Regions from separate parts of the Homo sapiens genome. Here region 1 is linked to region 2. Evidence: fine-mapped expression QTL. A gene starts in region 2. The other region holds a variant in brackets. All regions are shown on one strand. Distances are from middle to middle.

What was found. PIP is the estimated chance that this variant, and not a neighbour inherited with it, causes the effect.
Region 1: its variant is fine-mapped to the expression of GALNT15 in spleen (GTEx, PIP 0.97).

Annotation. Positions count from the first base shown.
Region 1 is chr3:16,108,457-16,111,371 of GRCh38, reverse strand. No RefSeq gene overlaps it. Among named protein-coding and RNA genes, the nearest start is that of GALNT15, 65 kb to the left of the region's middle. The variant T/C (reference allele first, on the strand shown) is at 1,446.
Region 2 is chr3:16,172,882-16,175,796 of GRCh38, reverse strand. GALNT15 (polypeptide N-acetylgalactosaminyltransferase 15) reads right to left here and starts at 1,117. Exons shown (of 10, transcript NM_054110.5): 1 at 107-1,117. The coding sequence starts at 645.

The DNA.
Region 1 (2,915 bases), 64 kb after region 2:
AGAGGCCTGTTCAGGTTATACCCTTTGAAAAAGGAAAAGCACGTGGAGGAGTACACAGGCTATATTTAAAGGACTAAACTTGAAATTTCATGTGTCATTTTCACTTATGTTCAACCAGCAAGAGTGTAGTCATATGACCACATCTGGCTGCAAGGAAGGCTGGGAAATGTAATTTCTAGCTGGCCAGCCATGTATCCAACTACTATGGAAGAAGGGAGAGCAGCTTTTGGTGAACAATATGCAATCTCCACTTATGGATAGCAAAAAAATAGTTTAAAAATCTGCAGAGATTTTCATAGATAGTAAGATAGCGCAAATTATCATAGTAACATTGTTTCTGAAAAACTAGACAAGGAAGTTAATTTGATACCAGCTTGCATGAATGACGATGAGAAAATGTGGTAGGCCTGCTTTGTCTATGCTGTTTAACTCTCCCTTTCCTCCAGGATAGTGGCCAATTCATGGTCACCTTTCAGGAGAACAGTGACAAACACAAGTGTATTCAGGAGTCAATAAGCTGATGAAGCCCTCAAAAGCAGGTCATAAGCAGAATGGTTGAAGGCCTTGAGGAATTTTGTCTTGAAGAGAACATTTGGGAAACAAAACTTCTGCCTTCAAATATTTTAAAGTGTGTCATGGTGAAAGGAGATAAGGTTTATTCTGTCAAAGCTCCAGAAATAGATATAATAAGAGGAAGCTGCAGGGAAATACATTTATGTTCATTATAACAAAAGAAGATCCTATCAGACAAGCCCAAAATAATTTACACCTCAGATGCATTTTGGACTAGAATAAGAGATCCAAAGTGCTAGCATTTATTGAGCACCTATGATGTGCCAGACACTACTCAGGCACTTTCACACACTTTATTCTTTCCAACTAAAAGTTGCTAAATTGGTAAGGCTACACCCTACATCCTTCTGACGGCTTCTGAAGAGGACACTGTCCTCCACTTATATTAATTTACACTAGTTCTTTTCTGAGTGTCTTCTCTTTTCCTGAATCAGTCTCCAATTGTGGAGGCAATTTATTGCAGCTCCACAATGCATTTCTTCAAACCCTATTTTTCAGCACTCACTGGCAGTCCTTCAGAGGATATATATGTGTTAAATCTGTGGGGTAGAACATCCTAGGGGGAAATCCTGGGGATGTTGTGTATATCCCAGGTTGTGGGTTCTGTGGCAGATGGGAAGCTGGCCAGGGCAGGGAAGGAAGGAAGCCTGTCACTTTCCAGCAGAAGCCTGCGACCTTTGTGGGGGTGTGCAGTCCTGACCAGCACAGCTTTGTGATGGCCTAAATGCTGGCTGCTTTACCACATAGATGACTCTGGAGAATGCTGTACGGAGGGTGAGTGGGCTGCTTTGGAGGCTCTGTCCAGTGCACAGACGTCCAGTGTCTTCCACATACCTTCTTCTTTGGGAACTGGTGGGGAAAGATGCCCTTCC[T/C]AATGTGTTAAGAGTTCCTCCTTCTTGAGTCAACAAGAGTTCTTTTTCATTCTTTGTGTCTCCTGAGCTAAGGTTTCTTGGTCTCCCAGATGTGTCTACCTGTGTGTCTTTAATTCAACACTCACCCCAGTCAATGCCAATCTCTAATGTTATGTCATCCTACTGGAGGGAATCCCAGGCAGGGAATAGAAAGTGACATGGAAGGAGAGACTCGAAAGCTCCAAATCTCCTTGAAGCTTGTGATAAACTGCAATGTTGTATATGGACCTAAAGTAAGTGGCAAGAACTTCCCACACTTTTCCAGGAAGTTGAGGAAAAACAGAGAGGGTGAGGTAGGAAACTATCTGGCCACATAAATATTCCATTTAAGATGTGAGGAAGCTGCACAGAAGACAATGGAAAGCCCCTGGAGCCATCAAGCAGCATGACTGGGGAGGTGGCTTGGAAAAGAAAGGCATCCTGTCTGTTACACGTACCCAGCCCTCAGTCTCTTCTTGTGTCTTCCAGACCCTGCTGCCTCAGATTTGTCAGATATTAATAGAAGTTGCTATGGCCCAGGAATCAAAGATCCCAAAGTGAGGTTGGGAGGGTTCTGGTCTTGTAATCCTGCAGAAGAGAATGTTCACAGTCTAGTTCAGCCTTTCCAGTGATAAGAGTTCCAGCCAGGTTCCTCTGAGCTACCTGATGGAAAGCACACTTCATCACAGCAAACAATCATGTTTTCCCAAGAAAACAAAATGTGGATTCAAATAAGAAATGGATTTTCTTCCTATCACCTTCCTGAGGCCCTCTTACTGTTCGTCTTCAGTCTACTGTGGTAACATGTGCTGTCAAATTAGCCTAGAACAGCTCAACTTAGCATCACAGAGAAGTGGAAGCAAAGAGACCGGGGTAGGTATGATGTAGGGAACCTCATTAGGATTATTTCCTTGTTCTAGATTCCAATAAAGTGAAATTATTGAGTTAAAAGATGTGATTATTGTTAATGACTTTAATACACATTGCCAAACTGCCTTCCAGGAAAGTTGTAACAGTGTCCAGGTATTGCTGTCTTGAACTATTTTTCATATTATAGTCCCTCAGCAATGTCTAGTCCCAAAGCTAGTGGTTATACCATTTTCCTGAATCATACCACTGCCCTCCATCCTCAGAACTTAACCCTAACTTTGATACTTAGAACTCCTTGTGTACTCACTCACTCTACAGAATGGGAGTATTTGAAAATTGAGTTTGGAATAAATATTTATTCATATATGAAATTCCCACTCCAGAATTACACCAGTCGCATTACACACCCACTATGCTAGCCACACCCTTGACACGAACTCATCCCATTAAGTGGCAGCATTGTGTTAGTAAAGGAAATAAAGGAAAAGATATCTTTCCTCAAGAAAAAAAAAATCTCCCTAGGAAATCTCAGGGTGCTTCCTACAGATAATTTTTTAAATGTCCCCACCATTATTTTCATTA
Region 2 (2,915 bases):
TGCTCTAAGTCAGGAGAGGCAGGCTACGGAAAGTTTGCATTCCCGAGTTTGCTACCACCCGATCATGCCCTGGGATCAGGGAAGGGAAAACAAGGGCCTTACTTACAGTGGGTGCCGCACCTCGGGCAGAGCCCTCTGGAGGGGGATGCGGGCACTGAGTGCCTCCTGGAGGCCACGTGGGTCCAGGCTGAACGGGGTCAACTCCTCTTCTTCAGACACCTCCCCGTCCTCATCAGCCCCCCAGTCCCTCTTTGGGGCTTCCTTATCCTGCCTCCTTGGCTGCTTGATGAGGCGGTAGCTCCCACCTCTCCTGCCCTGGCTCTGGTTCCTTCTGGCCTGGGGTAAGGCCACGGCCACCAGCAGCTGATCCTCCCGCAGTGAGATAAAGGGTGGCAGGCCCTCCAGAGGGCTGTACTCTTCACCCTCATCCTCAGCTTCCAGTACCCAATCCTGGGATTCCCCAAAGTCCAGGCGGTACCTGGCTTCAGGGCTGTGCTTGCTGGCTTGGGCTGTGACAGTCTGGTGCAGGGTGTGGTGGGGAGGGTGCAACATCGCCACCATCATCAGGACGCATCCCAGCATCAGGAGCAGCAGGAGGAACTGGAGTCTGCATGGTCTGTGCCTGTATCGCTTCCTTAGGAGCATGTTGCTAGAACTTGCCAAATGCAACAGGTCATGTTCAAGTTAGCTTTCTCCCGCTCCAGGCTCCTTCAAGCTTGCAGCAGAACCTGGGTTGCTTGTTCCACCTGGAAGTTTTTCTGCCAGTCACTTAACCTGGTCCTGACATTTGCCAACAGCGTGTGCAAGACCTGCTTCCACTTACAATCAGAAAACCACAGGACCCAAGTTTCACCCCAAGTCCTCTCTGAGTGGATTTCTTTAATTGCCTTCTGAAAGCCCATTCACAGGGACTTCAAATTGAATTGCTTCCCTCCCTTTACCCCGGTTTTCTCCTTGGGAAAAAAATAATGATTCCATTCTGCTCAGGTGTTTCTTTCCCCCTTTGTATAAATAGGTTGCTATGAGGTGTCTGGGATGAGCTGGTGGGTTCTCAGTCAAGCAGGGCTGACAGCCGTCCCTCTTTGGACGCTTCCAGTCAGGTCAGATCAACAGATGTAAAGCCGGCAGGCAGTGCCTGGTTTCCTTTCACACATAGCTCCACTCAGCCGAGAGCCCTCTGCCAGACACAACCCAGAGCCAAGCGTGCGCGTCACTCCTGGTCCTAATGCCCTCACTGTTCCCAGGCTTTGCACAACTCGGTGTGGTCACTGCTAGAGCCAAATCAAAACAGGAATATCCCAAGAGTTCAGAAGGAAAGACTAATACCCTCTGATTCAGAAAGGCTGTGTGTGTGGCATAGCTGCAAGGAGCTGCAGCTGTCTGTTTGCAACCTCAGCCTCCCATGGGGGATCAGGCAAACTAGGTTGGACTCTCCTTCCCTTCCTGGGGACCACTGTCCCTGGCCTCCTGAAAATGAGGGAGCTAAGGGAGATGATCTTGCAAGTCCCTTCTTCTCCCACAAGAGCAGCTGAATGCCTGCTCTGCCCTGGCCACCAAGGGGGACGCTGGAAGAGGAGTGGCATGCTCTTTCCCTCATAAAGCTTCCTTCATTTAACCAACACATAATTAATGAACACATGCTATGTGCCAAAATTGTTCTGGGAACTGGAAGTAGAGCAATGAATAACACAGACAAAAATGTGTGTCTCATGGAGCTTGCATTCTAGTGACAGATACAATTAAAACTATCCACTGGGTCAGATAGTGATGAGGATGAAGGCAAAAAAGCAGAGCAGGGATGGGGCTGGGGAGCATGGGCTGGGCTTGGAAATGGACATTGAGTGGTGGAGAAAGGTTTCATGGAAGAGTTACCATTTGTGTAAAGGAGAGGGCTGCACAGCTATTTGAGGTTGAGTGTTCGGGGCAGACAGAATGATAAATGTGAAGGTTCCAAGGCAAGAGTATGCTGGCATGTCTGAGGAACAGCCGGCATGGCTGAAGCAAAGAGAGCAGGGTGGAGCCTGATGGGAAGTGGAATAAGAGAGGCAAGGGGGCGGGGGGCAGGAGGACCATGCAGGACACCCCCTGGTTGCATTGAAGGAACTTTGGCTTTTCCTCTGAGTGAGAGGGGAGCCCTTAGAGGAGAGACACAATCTGACTTGGGTTTTAACTGGATCATTCTGGCTGCTGGGTTGAGACTAATCAGTGGGGGGCAAAAAGCAGGAGCAGGGAGACCAACCAAGAGGTTCTTGGCTTGCACTAAGTGGCATCGGTGGTGACAGGGGTCAGCTTGTGGATATACTTTAAGGAAGAACCTATAGGATTTGCTGATGAATTAATGACTAATGTGAGAGGAAGAGAAGAGTCAAGATGAGTTCAAATTTTTGTTCTGAGTAGTTGGAAGAATAGACTTGCCATTAACCAAGATGGGGAAGGAGAGAAGGTGGAAGGAGATGAATGCATGCCAGTGGCTTGATTTGGAACATGTGACATTCGAGATGTCCTCTAGACAGCTAAGAGGAGATGAAGTGAAGGCAGCAGTTGTAGGATAGCTGAAGGTCAGGGGGAGGTCTGGCCTGCATATACAAAGCTGGACTCCAGCAGCACTCAGATAGTGTTTGAAGCCGTGAGACCTGAGATCACTGAGGGAGTGAGGTAGGTAGAAGGGAGAAGAGAATCCAGCATGCTCAGTTTTCAGGCTTCTGGCTTGAACAGGTTGAAGGATAGCTGACCATCACCATGAGCAGTGTTTCTTCTGATGGCTGTAAAGCAGCCATGCTGTCTGCAACCAAGAGTGGAGGGGGGAAAACTGCCATTGGGGAAGTCCTGCAATGAACTTGCTCATTGTTTTTGTCTTTATTTTGATCTTAGAATGTCAGCTAAAATGTTTGTGGAAAAAAATGTTTTACCTTTTG